2 separate regions of the Homo sapiens genome follow, and region 2 is linked to region 1. A link means that fine-mapping ties the variant in region 1 to the expression of a gene that starts in the linked region. Tissue or cell type: cerebellum. Region 1 holds a variant in brackets; the other region holds the start of a gene. All regions are shown on one strand. Distances are from middle to middle.

Evidence for each region. PIP is the estimated chance that this variant, and not a neighbour inherited with it, causes the effect.
Region 2: TUBGCP3 starts here. The variant in region 1 is fine-mapped to the expression of TUBGCP3 in cerebellum (GTEx, PIP 0.99).

The regions. Positions count from the first base shown.
Region 1 is chr13:111,615,094-111,623,202 of GRCh38, forward strand. All of the region lies in intron 1 of LINC02337 (long intergenic non-protein coding RNA 2337), which reads left to right. Among named protein-coding and RNA genes, the nearest start is that of LINC02337, 23 kb to the left of the region's middle. RefSeq lists enhancers at 627-1,648, 6,501-7,026, 7,027-7,551. The variant T/G (reference allele first, on the strand shown) is at 4,358.
Region 2 is chr13:112,583,812-112,591,920 of GRCh38, forward strand. It overlaps TUBGCP3 (tubulin gamma complex component 3), which reads right to left and starts at 4,342. Exons shown (of 22, transcript NM_006322.6): 1 at 4,094-4,342. The coding sequence starts at 4,169. LOC124903251 (a long non-coding RNA gene) reads left to right here and starts at 4,375. Exons shown (of 2, transcript XR_007063945.1): 1 at 4,375-5,605; 2 at 6,203-8,109. RefSeq lists silencers at 3,813-3,932, 3,963-4,022, 4,053-4,272 and an enhancer at 4,338-5,157.

The sequences.
Region 1 (8,109 bases):
AATTAGAGTAGTTAATTACATTATTTTTTTAAGTTCTGGTAAAATGGTTGATGGGTGATGAAGCATGCATTTGATGAAAATGGATGATTGGGATTTGATTTAGCCATACCCTTTCTGTTCTTTGAGAATTGATGGTTTAGATGCCCTAAGTACTATTTTATGTAATGAAATAACTTGCAGCTTTTTTGACAGACAGAGCAATATTTCTTTACCCCAAAGTCTATCATTGTGGCTTTTGAGCTTCACTTAATATTTTGAATAATGAAATAGAAGAATCTTTGTTTGGCAGTTTGAGAGCAGAACATCACTGAAAGATGAAATTGCTGGAGTTAATCAGGCTGAATAACACTGACATTTGCAAGAGGAGATTGCCAGGGAATTAGGATGGGAAAAATGTTCTTAAAGTCGTACAGAGTCTTCTGTGAATTTAAGGGGTGAAAAAACTTAAAAGCACAATTAAGTTTTCCAGGAAGCATTTTTCTCCATGGAATAGAATTTCTGCACCTGATTCCAAGCTCAGTGTGCTTGAAGGCCACTGACAGCCCCGCATCTCAGACGCAAATACCCTGAAGGGGCAGCCTGTGAGTCACTGGTGTCCATGTTTCACTGAATTCTTCTTTTAGGTGTGGAGGAGTCGCTTCTGTTTCATTTCTGATCTAACACCCTGTTGTTCCTTAGGCTTAAAACCCATCCGGGAAGGCATCTCTATGGTGCCCCAAACTGACTTCAGCGACGGGCTTGAGCCACATTCCCCCAGCCTCGGCGGGTACTTTGGAGTCTCTGTTTTGATTTGGAGGCTTGTTTTCTGATAGGAGATTCAATTCTGTCAATTAAGGTAGAACACCTGCTTTTTCTCTGATTTTTCAGTAGATTTACATTTTGAAAAGCAAAGCAGGTGCTTGAATTTTGTAGCATTATAATGAAATGGAAAATTGTCAATGTCACCAAAGTGATTGAAAAATTTCCAAAACGAAGTTGAATTCATGAAATGTGATGAGGCCATGAGGCCAAAATCCCAACATGGCTTTCAAGGAGACGTTCCACCGGGGAGCTTGGGGAGGACTGTGGAGAGACGGCTTCCTCCTGGGGCCCTGCCACCCCAGGACTTCAGCATTCCAGGAGGGGTTTGAAAAAAAGATGGAGTGCTGGGATACAGTTTCATGTGGTATATTTAATACAGCATTTGTGAATAGCAGATTGTCAGAAACTCTTAGGAGCGCTATTATATCTGTGATTCTGGAGCCAGGAAGAGACATGGGAAATTGCAGCAATTACAGTCCCATCTCATTGATTAACGCCGATTGCAAAATAGTCACGAAAATATTGGCACTGCAGCTTCAGTCTGTTTTACCTAATACTGTTCATGCCAATCAAATGGGGTTTACCAAAGGAAGGCACTAAAACAACAGCCGAGAAGCATTTATCATCTCGATGTCCATAACTTAATGCAGGGAACGCAGTCGGTGGCCGATCTCTCCCGAACCGACCTCCTTCCTATCCTGAGCTTCATCTGCAATCACTACTTCTTGGCTTAATCACAGGAAACAAAGATAGTTAACTTTACAATGTTACATGTTTTGATATGTTAAAAAAAAAAAGCCATCAAATCGTATAGTACAATTACACATCATCTGGTGAATCACTGGGAAAGACCAATCTTGAAAACCAGCCAATTTCTTCCCTGGAAAGAATAATTAATTCAGGAGTGATGTTTCTATTTATACATCTTTTCAAGAAAAGTGAGAAGTTGTACCCTGAGGAAGTTTCCGAGCATGTAAAAGTTGTTTACATTTCCAGGTTTTATGTTCTATTTTTCTAAATCTTTTGTTTCACAAGAGAATTTGTTATATATCTTTATGTGGAAACATTTGTGGTCAAAGCAAAAACTGTAGGAATAAAATTCAAATCATTTTGCAAAGGTTTTTTGGTTTTTTTCCCCTGATCTCCATTTTCTGCCCCTGGCCCCTGCCTCTGTATTAATGTACATACAAATTTATGTTGAACAAAGAGTGACAGGAGTTTGAAAAGACAATGAGGCCCTTTTGTCCCTGGCCTTTGAATGTATACTAGGAGGGAATTCACATTAATTGAGTGTATACTAGGAGGGAATTCATATTAATTGAGCATATACTATGGGCCAGGTACTGTGTCAGGCATTGTGTGACTGTCACGTTTTCCAGTCCTAGCTCAGGGAGAAAGGTTGTCCTGTTTCCATTTTATGGATAACAAAAGTGAGGTTCAGGGGGTGTAATTTGCTGGAGGGCACCTGCTGCTAAGCGGAGGAGTCTGGTTTCTAGGACTTAAACATCCTTCTTTCTTCCAGCTTCACAAGATTCTTCCACTTGGCGTTCCCGTGTTTACTCCCTAGAGTGATGTCTTTAATCTAACTGGTAGAGAAAGAAAGTGCCCTCCTAAGTTTATCTGAAAGCTGATCAAAGTCTAAGGATACATAAAAGTCATTTCTGTTTTTATCTGCAAGGCATATACAAAATGTGCATGTGGTCAGCACAGCATTACAAGCCAGTCAGCACTAGCCCTGCTCTCAGAGAATCTAGACAAGGGTCAAGGGACTGAAAAATCTTACACAGATAAAAAGAACAACCAAGGTTCATCTCATGCCATAGAAATGGAGAAAATCCAGCAGGAGTAGCAGTTGGAGAGAGAAGGTACAGCACAAAGAGTGAACCAGGAAAGTCTTCCTGGAAGAGGAAAATTTTGATTTGAGATTTGGCTTTTTTTCCTCTGGTGCTTCATGAATATATAGCATTAAAAAAACCATGAAATTGTGAGACCTCTGACTAGAGGGGTAACCAATGTTAATTGCTAATTTGTACGTGTAATTATTGGAAGGCCCTGATAGGCCGCATCATTCCTGAGGTAGAGAGACTGTTGTAGAGTGTGTACGTATGGATACGTGGGACCCTCACAATGTCTGTTTGCCATTCACTTCATTCCCACAGAACATAGCCCTTCACCATATGCACAGAAACATTGAGTGTTATCATTGAAAAATGTCTTACTGAACTTATGGGGAAAATAATGTATTTCATGGATTATTAGTGAGATTGGACAGACGTTCACATTGATGACATATTAATCTTCCTTTTCCTTTTAATTCTCTACTTACAAATTTTTCCCATTTTTCTACTGGATTATAGAGTGTATATAATAACATGATCTTTATGTCTCGAGAGTGAACCGTTCTCTGTTATTTTGAAGTTATTTCTGTTATGTTGAAGTTATTTTTTCCTAGTCTTCCATTTGTCTCTCATTTTGCCTTTGACATCATTACATAGACATTGATGAGAGTCGTAGGGGAGGAAAAATTTAATTTTCCTTACCCATTGCTAGGTTCATGGCTGAGGCCCCTGTAACAAAAGGCAGATTAACAGGAGAAGAGCAGACATATCTATTTAATGTCAGTTTAACATGCCACAGGAACCTTTAGAAATGGGGACGTATGATTGGACAATGAGGTGGATAGCCTAGCAGTAATAAACCAGGGAACAGGGAGGCTTAGCAGGGCCTGTGTGTTCTGAATCTTCTCTGTGTCCTTGTCTTTAGAGATAAAAATGTTCCTTTCCTCTGGGCATAGGGAGCACACCTCTCCCACGAGGGTCTCAGGACCAGCTTCAGCGGAGCAGGGTGGAGAGAGGTGAGAGGAGCTTTCCTGCTTCTGCTGTTTCCTCAAAGGCCAAGGGGCTGTGTCCTGGGCTGCTTGTCCTCAACCCGCTCTGCCTTTTTGTCTAGAGACACAGAAGGCCTTTTTTATCCCCATTTCATGATTACCCCTTTTCCGTTTGCTTGGAGAGGACGCAGCAGTGGCACTTGCGGCTGCAGTGTTTACCCCGAGATAACTTTGTCATGAAATACCTCGCTTTTGTTATTTTTGCATCACTGTAATATATCAACTTTGGAAACAAAAGACATTCTATTTATAGCATTCTGTTTTTAGTAACGATACTTTCCATTTACAAAATCGCTGAAAATGTCAAATCCTAGAAAACGTGGCATTCTCACATGTGATACGAACATCATTCTCAAACAGTTGTTGGCCGAAGATTCATTTGATGAGTCTGATTTTTCCGAAACTGACAATTCTGATGATTCAGACGATTCTGATGTTAGCTCTGTTTAGAAATAACTCCAAGAACAGTTTTTATATTTTACTTTTACCTTGAAAATCAGTCAGATTTGCTTCAGCCTCAAAGAGCGTGTTTATGTAAAAGTAAATGAGCGCCAGCAGTGAGCTGCACTTTATTTTTCTAAATGGGCAAAGGGTTAATTTTTTAAAAAGTGTTCTGTGATATCTTTTAGTACTTTTATAGTATTTTGTGTTTATCACATCTGAAATTTA[T/G]TTTTGTGTAGAATATTTAATATTTTTGAAAGGAGTAGTTCAAAACCACTTGTTGAATTGACAAATTTTTCCTTGATATAAAAATGTCACCTCTACCGTATACACCAAGATGCATACATGCATTTCCTACTTCTAGGCTCTTCCTCTTGTTCCATTTATTGAATTTTTATGTTTCTGAGCCAACACCACAATGTTTTGAGCACTACAGTTATCAAATATTCTTTGATATTTTACACTGCTAATTATTGGTTTTTCCTGTAGATTTTCTTTCCTAGATGAATCTTGAAATTAGCTAGTCAAAGTCTGTAAAATTTCCTTTGGGATTTGGATGTGGATTGGATTGGATTAATTTGGAGAACTAACATTCTGATGATAATGTTTAGCGGTTTGATTTTCATTTTCCGTGTTATCATTTTCAACTGCACTTGCTTCGACCTTCCCTTGGCTCTCTGGGAGAAAGTCTTCTGTCTCTCCCCAGCAGCATTGATTCCATTTTCTACCCGGTCCACTCTGCTTTTTGCTGCCTTCAGTGCATATTTTAACCCTGCTCCTGTTGCTTTCCCTATGACGCTCTTTCCTGTTGAGAAGTGTCAAGTAAAACTCTCTAAAAGTGCTTTTCACCTCCTTTAGTAGATAATTTCCAAGGGTACAGTTTTCCACTGAATCTTAGATGATTATTCCCTTTCTCCTGTGTTGCAAGGTGTCCCTGCAGAGACATATTAAATGAGAGCCCTCTGGGAGCTGGTGGTGGGCTTAGCGTGGTGCACGTTGAACCAACTGCAGGATTCCAATCTGAAGGGAGGTTCTCCTGCAGGGGGATGCTGCTGATGGACTACTGATACTGATGGGTACTGACAAGCACCAGGCCTGGAGAAGCAATTCTTTACACCAGGATGAACAAACAGAAAGGACATCATGATGGAAGCCGTGGGTGTATTTTGAATGCAGCAGAAAGGAAATGTTAGCCCCACACTTAATGGGAGATATGGTGGTTTTTTCACTGGCTGTGGGATTTCACATAGAGGCAAGAATGTGCACACTCTCTGATCACAGAAAACTGACTTATCACGGGAGGAGGCAGACGGCTCAGAAAGGCGAGAGCTCTAACTTCCATGAAGTGGCAGAGTGATGTGGTGTGTGTCTGTGGAGGTGGCATATCACGTGTCATGGCGTCTAATAATGTGGTGGGTTAGAACATGGTGAGACCAACGTCTGGAATGGCCAGGCTGGCTTCTGCCTGCATCCCTGTCCTCCGTGGGGCTGTGAAGGGCCCCGGCGGCAGGGCCCTCTCCTGGGGGGCTGTGGGAATGCCTGGCTGCAGGTCAGCCCACGGAGGAGCTTTGACACTGGCCCAGTGTGAGCTCATGGGGACACCCATACCTGTGTGAATGTGTGAGAGGACATCTGTGCGTGCCAGTGGGGAACCAGGATGTGTGTGTGTGTCTGAGGTGTGTGTGTCTGTAGGTGTATGGTGAGTGTGTGTTTACGTGTTTGTGGGGCATATGTGTCTCTTGTGGGAGGTTGGAGGTGTGTCTAGGGGAGGCTGTGTGTGTGCATCTGTCTGTGATATGTGTATCTGATGTGTGTGTGATGTGTGTGGGCATGTGTCTGTGGTGTGTGTGGTGTGTGTCTGGTGTGTGGTGTGTGCGTGTGTCTGTGGTATGTGTATCTGTGGTGTGTTTTTGTGTCTGGTGTGTGTAGTGTGTGTTGTGTGTGTGTGGTGTGCGTGTGTGCATATGGTTTGTGATGTGTATGGTGTGTGTCTGTGGTTTGTGTGGTATGTCTGGTGTGTGTGGTGGGTGTCTGTAGTATGTGGGTGTCTGTGTGTGTGGTGTGTGTGTGGTATGCGTGTGGTGCGTGTGTCTGTGGTGTGGGGGTGTGTGTCTGTGGTGTGTGTGTGGTGTGTGTGGTGGGTGCCTGTAGTGTGTGTGTCTGTGTGGTGAGTGTCTGTGTGGTGTGTGTCTGTATGGTATATGTATGTGGGGTGTGGGGCGTGTGTGTGGGGCTTGTGTGTGTGGTAGGTGTCTGTGGTATGTGTGGTGTGTGTGTGTCTGTGTGGTGTGTGTCTCTGTGGTGTGTGTGTGTGGTATATGTACATGGGGTGTGGGCGGGCGTGTGTGTGTGGTGTGTGTCTGTGGTGTGTGTATTGGTGTGGTGTGTGTGTCTGTGTGTGTGTGGTGTGTCTGTTGTGTGTGTGGTGTGTGTGTGTCTGGTATGTGTGGTGTGTCTTTGGTGTCTGTGGTGTGTGTGTGTGGTGCGTGTATCTGTGTGGTGTGTGTGTGGTGTATGTATGGTGTGTGGTGTGTGTGTCCGTGGTGTGTGTGTGGTGTGTGTTTATTCGTGGTGTGTGTGTGTGTGGGGTGTGTGTCTGTGTGGTGTGTGTGTGGTGTGTGCGCGTCTATGTGGTGTGTGTGGTGTATGTCTGTGGTGTGTGTGTGTCCGTGGTGTGCGTGTGGTGTGTGTGCATCTCTCTGTGGTGTGTGGAGCACACAGTCCCAGCTCTCCCTCTGGTGCCCTCTGCCCATGTCTCCATCAGCCCCACGTGTCCCCCTCGTCCCTAGGCCGCATCCGACTGTCCACGTTGCCCTCTGAGGTCCGGCGCCTCATCCATCAGGAAACTGGGTCTTGGGGCCGCACAGGGGACAGCACCCAGCCCGCATATGCAGGCGGCTCTGGGGGCTCCCAAGGTGGCCTCCCTCCCGGCCAGGGCGCCTTCCATTCTTCCTCATTCGCGGCCATGGCCCTTGCTGGAAGCTCAGGCAGAAGCCCCTGGCATGTCTCATATGGCTCCTGAGGTGGTCCCAGCCCCTGGGACCTGCGGGGCGAATGCGGACTGGGAGCCTCTGCCCCAAGCCACATGGGCCTCGATCCCCACTCGGTAGCCCAGGCATCAGGTGCTGCTGCCCAGAAGGTCCCTGTCAATCAGACAGAAACGGTCCCTTGGGGCCCGGCCTCCTGGGTGCTGCCCGGGCGCTGCCATCCACCCCTCACCAGTGTGGGCCTCGCACCAGTTTGGCTCAGTGAGGAGCACCGGCGAGAGGAGGCCGCTGTGCCTCCCAGGTTCTCCCGGTTCTGCAGCCCAGCCTTCACCTGTTCTCAGGCCACAGCCAAGCTGCTGAATTCCTGGCATGTTTTGCTTGCTTCCACCTGGGACTGAAATTTTAAACACTTGACCTCCATCCTCCTTAAATTCACACATCATGCAACGTGTCTTACAAGAAACCAACACAGGCCGGGCGCGGTGGCTCAAGCCTGTAATCCCAGCACTTTGGGAGGCCGAGATGGGCGGATCACGAGGTCAGGAGATCGAGACCATCCTGGCTAACACGGTGAAACCCCGTCTCTACTAAAAATACAGAAAATTAGCCAGGCGCGGTGGCGGGCGCCTGTAGTCCCAGCTACTCGGGAGGCTGAGGCAGGAGAATGGCATGAACCCGGGAGGTGGAGCTTGCAGTGAACCGAGATTGCGCCACTGCACTCCAGCCTGGGCGACAGAGCGAGACACCGTCTCAAAAAAAAAAAAAAAAAAAAAAAAAAGGAAACCAACGCAGTTCCTGGCCCTGCACTACAGCTGAGCTCGCAGGGCCTCGGGAGCCACACAAGTTCCTTTTCTTCCCTGCGAAACATTTGTTGCTGTCTTGACTTTTTGGGCATCATTGAGAAAACATGTTGATGTGTATTAACGCCAAGGCCATTTCGATTCATGGAGAAGAAAACGCCACTGGGGTCTAATTAAGCCATTGATTTAAAAC
Region 2 (8,109 bases), 970 kb after region 1:
GTTGGGAGTAAGCCACAGTGCTTAGTAGAGGAACAGAGCACATACACTAGCCACCCTTGACTCCAGATGCAAGTCAGAGTAACTTATCACGCATTTTAATGTTTCGGATGCCAAGCTCCAACAGACACCTACAGGATCAGAAGCCCTAGAGATGAAGCCCACAATATTAATTCTGAGTAAGTCCCACATTTAGAGAGTTTAAAATGAAAAGGCATGAAGTTAGATACCATAAAAAGTCCTGTTCTCAACCACTGGCCACCAGCTCCCCTTCCCACAGGCAATCAACGTTATCAGGTTCTTGTGAAATCACAGGCGATTCCAATGCATGGCTCTAGTTGAAAAGCAATGCTCTAAAACAACAAAAACATTACTCTAGATGCGTGGTTCTCAAACTCTTTGGTCTCAGGGCTTCTTTACACTATTACGATTGAGAACTCCAAAAAGCTTTTGTTTATGTAGGTTATATCTATCCACAGTTACCATATTAGAAATTTAAGCCAAAACAATTTTTAAATTTTAACTTATTGAAAAATAGTAAATCCATCAAGTACAACTTGAAACAAAGCCTGAAACTCTGAAGTTTTAATACACATCTAATGTATATCTTAATATACATGTAATACACATTGATCTTCCCAAGAATGTAATTATATAACCAAAGGAAGATCACATGGTATTTGGAACTTCATCAAAAGCTCTTTACCATTTTGGAAAATCATGAAACCAATAGCAACACCACTTGTGGTACTGAATCACCAAAACAATAATCCTTTATCTTCTGATAGTGGCTTGTAGGACACTCATAGAGGTCTTGCATATTATGGCAATCATCTTCGAATATGCTGTGTACTGTAGTCATACCTGAACATTTATGATGAAATACTTATCTAATATAAATTCCTCTTTATGTATTCTTTACCTCATAGTTAGAAAAAGGATTACAAAGTAGCTATGAAAAGAAGTGTTACCTCTGACAGATTTGAACATTAACATCAAGCACACTGTTTCCAATGATAAGAATAATTACGCAAAGACATAATAAATAAATGTGCTCCCAGGAGGGGCAGGGATATGGAGACAGGATTTGACTATGACTGGCTGGCAGTATGTGTTTCAAGCAAATTCACAGATGTTATAAGTTGGAAAAGGTGGTAAATCATGGTCATGCTAACTTTGTAAAACTGTCAAGCACCATTATATGTAGGTGCTTTGCTTCTGAAGGTCCCTTGAAGTCAACTGTATAATTTTTTAAAAGATACCTTATAAAAATGTGATTCATATGAAATTCTCATTAAAAGTAACAAGTACCTATTATGCCTTGATTTCATAGTACTAAAAAAAATGTATTACAAAAGCATAAGGCCAATTGTAATATGTCATCAAAGAATAAGGTAATTAATCAAATATTCTATGGAGTTACCAGATAAAATGCTCACTAATCAAATTTTTAACACCAAATATTGTAAAGGTAGTAATTAATATTGCTCCTTTGCTCACTAAGGTATAACAAATGAAAGAACAAGGTAAGCTACTATTTATAAATTCTTCAGTAAATAGCAGCATAATTTAAAATTATATCATAAATGCTTGACAATCCTAGCTATCTAGAACATAGCAAAAAGAGCATCACCTTTAATGGACTTCATGACATAATTTATTCAGAGAGGGCCGGGCGCAGTGGCTCGTGCCTGTAATCCCAGCACTTTGGGAGGCCAAGCGGCAGGGGGGTGGGGTGCAGATCACTTGAGGTCAGGAGTTGGAGACCAGCCTGGCCACATGGTGAAACCCCATCTCTACTAAAAACACAAAAATTAGCCAGGAGTGCTGGCATACACCTGTAATCCCAACTACTTGGGGGGCTGATGCAGGAGAATCACTTGAAGGAGGCAGAGGTTGCAGTGAGCCCAGATCATGCCACTGCACTCCAGCCTAGGTGACAGAGCAAGACTCCATCTCAAATAAATAAATAAATAAATTATTTATTCAGAGAGGACCCTGTCAGGATCTGAGAGCCCACTTTTAGACACAGTTCTAAATGGGAAGATAGTAGGATACAGAATTTTGCTGAAAAGAAGCTTTTCAGTCTCTTAGAAGGGACAAAACTTTTATATCAAAGAATCTTCAATGTAAAAAAAAAAAAGTTTTTGGCTGGGCGCGGTGGCTCACACCTCTAATCCCAGCACTTCGGGAGGCCGAGGCGGGTGCATCACGAGGTCAGGAGATCGAAACCATCCTGGCTAACACAGTGAAACCCCGTCTCTACTAAAAATACAAAAAATGAGCCAGGCGTGGTGGCGGGCGCCTGTAGTCCCAGCTACTCGGGAGGCTGAGGCAGGAGAATGGCATGAACCCGGAAGGTAGAGCTTGGCAGTGAGCCGAGATCACACCACTGCACTCCAGCCTGGGCGACCAGAGTGAGACTCTGTCTCAAAAAAAAAAAAAAGTTCTTAGGTTGAGAAATATCATTCTAGCTCATGATGAATGAATTTCAAAATCCAATTATAACAATGGGAATGTATGAATGTGTGGTTTATCCCTAGAAAAAAAAACTCTGGAACCACTGGTATAAGGAAAACACTGACATTAAGGTGGGTAAGTCCTAACAATCTTAGTTTTATCTGATTCCCCCTATGACGAGGAACATGAAACATGTGAAAGGAAACTCAGTCTGCTAATGACAAAAACAAACGATGGCAGGCCATGCTCATACCTCAAGACCTTTCCACTGGTTCTCTCTACTCAGAACCTTCCCCAGATGTTCAAATGGCCCTCCCTTACTCCATTCAGGTCTCTTTAAATATCTCAGAGGCTTTCCCTCACCTGCCTCTTCCCTCTCTATTCCTTTACCCTACTTTTTCGCCACAGTACTTATTGCTAATTAACATGGCTGGTTTATCATCTGTCTCTTCCAGTAGAGTGTCTGTCAGATCTGTGGGAGGAATGACTTGTGCATCTGCATCACCAGCACTTAGCACAGTTCCCGGGGGGAACTTTGAGGACGGGGTTGTCCTCAAAGATTTCTTAGATAAATAAAGTGATAGAATCAAACTTTACAAGATGCAGCAAGAACTGTGTGAAGTCACTCATTTAATAGCGACACAAAATTATTCATGATTGCCCCAAGATTATCATAGAACATCCAATGAATTATGTACAGTAATTGTCATGAAGCATGAAAGGTCAAAATGCATTCTCAGTACTTTAAATGTAACTTTGAAGTCTTCCTTCAAAAATTGAGTAACTTCTTTTCCACATTTTGGTGCTTAAGATGTAACTCAGTTGCTTCCATTACTCAGAAAATTCCCTCATGGTGCATCCTCACTCTCTGCCCCACCAACCTGGCCAAAACAAGGAGCAAGAAATGGCATCCTGTACCATTTCTTTCAAAGTACCTCGACTACAAAATGGTTTTACCTACCGTATAGGATTAGTTTTGCTTATTAGTAACAATATTCGCCATGTGAACTTTCCCAGAATAGTTTTATATCAAATCCAACCTTCAACCCTTTAAACAGTAGGAAAACACGGCAGTTACAGTCGTTAACACCCTCTTCCCATAATACTCAAGCCTGTTAAACTTTCCTAACGAAAAGGGACGATGATGTGACACTCCAGCACCCCGCATCCACCTCCGCGGCGCAGCCGCTCTCTCCACCCCACAGGATGAACCCAAAGGCGCGCAGAGGCGCCCTCCCACGGCGCGTGACACCAGAGAAGGGGGATAAATTGGCGAGCTGGCATTCCTCCCGTCCTCACTGACGGACCCGCGAGCGGAGTGAGCGGTGACTCAGCCCGCTCCGGCTCGGCTCCGCCCTCCCGCCTCCCGCCCCGGCGTTCTCGCCCCGGCCTTGGCCTCTCCACTCCCTCCGCCCCGGTCCTGGCCCCCAGCCCTCCGCTGTCCTCCCCGGCTCCCTGACCCTCGAACCCCAGCCCTCCGCTCCCTCGTCCGGGCCCCACGTCCTCGGCCCGTCCCCCAGCCCTCTGCCCGGCCCTGCATCCTCGTTCCTCCAGCCCCGGAACGTATTAGGGCTGCACGCGCAGGGAGCAGCCCCCGGGACGGGTCTGCGGGCTTCGCGTCGCCCGGCCACTCTACCTTCGCTCCTGCCCAGGATCCTGCAGCACAGGTTCTGCAGCAGAACGTTCGGCGACTTCTGGTCCGGGGTCGCCATCCTCGCCCGGAGCCGTGCACGGTGGTCCGGGCAGAGCCGCCACTGCCGCCGCACGCGCAGGGACCGCGGCCCGCGCCCTTCCTGCGCCCCGCAAGCTCCCTGCTCCTGACAGGCTAAGGCGCGGGCGCCGCCGGCCACCAGGGCGCCATTTTAACGGAACCCGCCGAAAGCGCGGGCGCTTCCCACAATGCCCCGCTTCTTCCCTGCGCCGCGGCCGCGCGTGCGGCTGCCTAAGCGTTCCCGGCCCTGTCTGGTGCATTCCCCCTGCTGCTGCCCGGTCGGCCGAGAAAGTTCCGGGCGACAGGTGGCCCGAGGCCCTCGAGCTGCGCGGACAGAGCGGCCCCGGAGTCGCGAGCGTGACGGGCTTGCTTGGAGGGCACTTGGTGGCCGGTAGCACCATAAAGGCCATAATTTGGTGTGTGGGTGTGGGGGTGTGTGTGTTAACGGCATTGGTTTGATTCACACTTCTGATGAAAGAAGCCTGTTTAAAAAAGAAAAGAAAAAAGAAGCCTGTTTAAAGGGTGCAGGGTGTTACGATTGTTAACGTGCAGTGGGCAGTTCACCTGCTACGCTATCCAACAGGCGCCCTGCTCAGGCCCGACCTCGCACTGCCGCGCGGGCCGGTCCCCCCCGGCCCGGGTAACTGGGACGTCCTGGGAAAATAAATTAATCACGTACGGAGTGAGAGAACAGGAAACCTGCCGAGAAAAAGATCGATAAGCAGACAATTACACCAAGCCAACTTCAGTGCAATCGTTAAAGCTTACACATGGGTGCACGCTTGGGAGCCGTGAGCTACCATGTTAAAAGGCCAACTTCCTAAGGAAAAATGATGGAAAGAGATCCCGAGATCCTATGAAATGGAAGAGGGAGGACAACCCAGCTATCCCAACATCCCAGCTGAGGCCAGCCACACACGTGACTGTCTGCAAAGCCCGTCGGGCCTGGGTCCAGCTCAGGTTGCAGAATTGTTGGCAAGTAAAACGTTTGTTGTCGTTCTGACTCAAAAACATGGAGACAAAGCAGACTTGTAGGGTATTACAGTCAACAACTAGACCCTACAGCTAAAGGACTGTCTCCTTGCATGATGCAACAACCATCACAGCTCTGCAAGAGCAACCAAACCACCAAGGATGCGATCACCCCTCACTGCCTTCGATACGCATTCTGTGGAAACGCTTCTAAACTTGCATCACACTCAACACGATCAGTTAGTAACTGGCTTCTCATGAAGTTATTCTCTCAGCCGCATACTACAATGTCCAGATGTCATCTAAATCCTGCCACCCTCTCCCCCACCTTCAGCTGAAACGCTGCATGACTGCATCATCTTACCTGACCAGCTCTCTCCTAGGACAGACATGCAAGAACCCCCCTCACTAACGCTGATGTTATTTGGTTTACAGATGGCTCTTACTTAAAGATGCAGCTGGAAGGTATTACACTGGTTATGCCATAGCGTCTTTGCCCAAAGAAATAGAAAGTGCTTGTCTTCCAGGAGCAATCATCTCAACAAGCAAAGTTAATAGCATTAATTAGAGCCTGTCAGTTGGCAAAAGGAATAACTGCTAATCTTTATACCAATAGCAGGTATGCTTATAGAGTAGCTCATAACTTTGGAATGCTATGGAGACAAAGGATTTTTAACCTTTTCTAGTCAGCCCACAAAAAAATGGGTGCCTTGTTTCAGAATTATGGCAAGCCATACTATTGCCAAAATCATTAGCCATTATCAAGATTCCAGGCCATTCAAAGACACTCAAAAAAGCAAGATAAGCCAGTTAGCAGGTAGTATAGCAAACAGGGTGGCCATAAACATATCTGAACAAAAAGATCAAACCATTTTGGCCTTTAAGGAAGTTAGATTTTTATGTAAAATTAGCTCAATCTAAATCTCCAAAAACAGGACGAGAAAATTGGGAAACAAAAGTGGCACATGCGCTTCTGAGACTGATGTACGGTTTGACCAAATGTTCTACTCATACTTCCAACTAAGTTACAACCATCTTTCTTTTTTTTTTTTTCTTTTTCAGATGGAGTCTCGCTCTGTTGCCCAGGCTGGAGTGCAATGGCGTGAACTCCACCTCCTGGGTTCACGCAATTCTCCTGCCTCAGCCTCTTGACTAGCTGGGACTACAGGCACCCGCCACCATGCCGGGCTAATTTTTTGTATTTTTAGTAGAGACGGGGTTACACTCTGTTAGCCAGAATGGTCTCGATCTCCTGACCTCGTGATGTGCCCGCCTCGGCCTCCCAAAGTGCTGGGATTACAGGCGTGAGCCACCGCGCCCGGTCCAGCCATCTTTCTTAACGTGCATACACGATGTGACTCACTGGAGCCCTGATAAGATTATTGATTTCTTGAGGAGAACAATGTTGTCGGAAACCTTCTCCAACTGTTGCTCACGGGTATACAGTCAGGGCTGTCTTCCCAGAATATAATGCAAGGAAACCTTGACCCAGTTCTCCATGTCATTTTCCTTTACCAGAAGGCCCTTTCGAGGTATGGCAACTAGATTTTTTCAGCTACCACCATCACAAAGATACAGGCACATCCTAGTGATGGTTTGTGTATTTTCTCATGGGTAGAAGCATTTCCATGCAGAAGAGCAGCAGCCTTGGCGGTAAGTAAAATTATCTTAGAGAAAATTATTCCGATTTGGGGAGTTCCTCAAGAACTTTATAGCAACAGAGGCACTCATTTCACTGCACAAATAATCCAGTTAGTATGCAAAATCTGGCCCATTTTCCAGCATTTCCATTGTGCCTATCACCCCAGTCATCTGGGTTAGTAGAATGCACAAGCAGAATAATCAAAACTCATTTGGCAAAATTAACTGAAGTTTTAAAACTCCCTTGACTGGAAGCTCTTTCTTGTTTTTGCTTCACCTAAGATCAGCCCTTATGGGTAAACACCAACTGTCTTCATCTGAAATTATAACGGACAGACCTATGAAATTGTCTCCAGGAAATTGTAAATCGATGATATTAAAAAGGGACAGGTTGTATTATTGCAGCAGCCTCATAAGGCACCTAAGTAAAAACTGTTATTTAGTAAAAGATTCTTTCCACAGTGAGCTCCAAGAAGCAAAAACTCAAGGAACACATACTTCAGCCAGGAGACTTTGTAGGAAACAGCATCCTTTAAAGGACTTTCTCCACCAAGGAGGAAGGAACCTTATCAGGGACTCCTAACCAACCCTTGTGCCACTAAGCTTAAAGGAGTTGATTCCTGGATACCTGCCACCCATGCAAGGAAAGCTGCTTTGTCAATTTGGACTTCATCTCAAATTGGTGATCTAAAACTAAAACTCTCCAGAACCAACAAGGATGAGAAGAAAACAACATGTGAGGCGATCAGCCTTCTCAAGACACCTGACCAGGCCTGTATCTAGACAAACCCTTAATATAATCATCGTCAGTAGATGAGGAAGGTCTTCCTTTACAAGTTCCCACCACACTTCCTTCTTTTTGTCCCTAGTTCTTCTGTTTTGTTGCTACCATCACCAGCCATTGCCCATGAAACAAACATCTTCTTGCAGTAGGCTTGGGCCTGTGCTAGTAAATTACAGGACAACACTCGTTAGGTGTGTGGCCTTGCGCCCCTTTCTGGTGGTTCTGGCCTACCATGGTGGCAGCTCCTCTTCAAGGACAAGAGTAGACAGAATATCAGAAATGTGTCTGTGTTTCTCAGGACAGTCATTGGTGCTTAGCACTAGTATGATGAAGGCAAGTGTGCATCACTGGCCTATGAATGATACTTTACAAAGCAAAAGCCATAGGAAGAGCTTTCCAGTAAAAGTCCACATACCTTAATGCTGGTACTACACCAGCTGAGAGATTAGACCACTCAATATCGGGATGGCATAACACAAACTTGGGATGGTTTCACCTGACTTACCCTCTCTTTGGGTCAACTTAGTTCACGTGCCCCTTTACA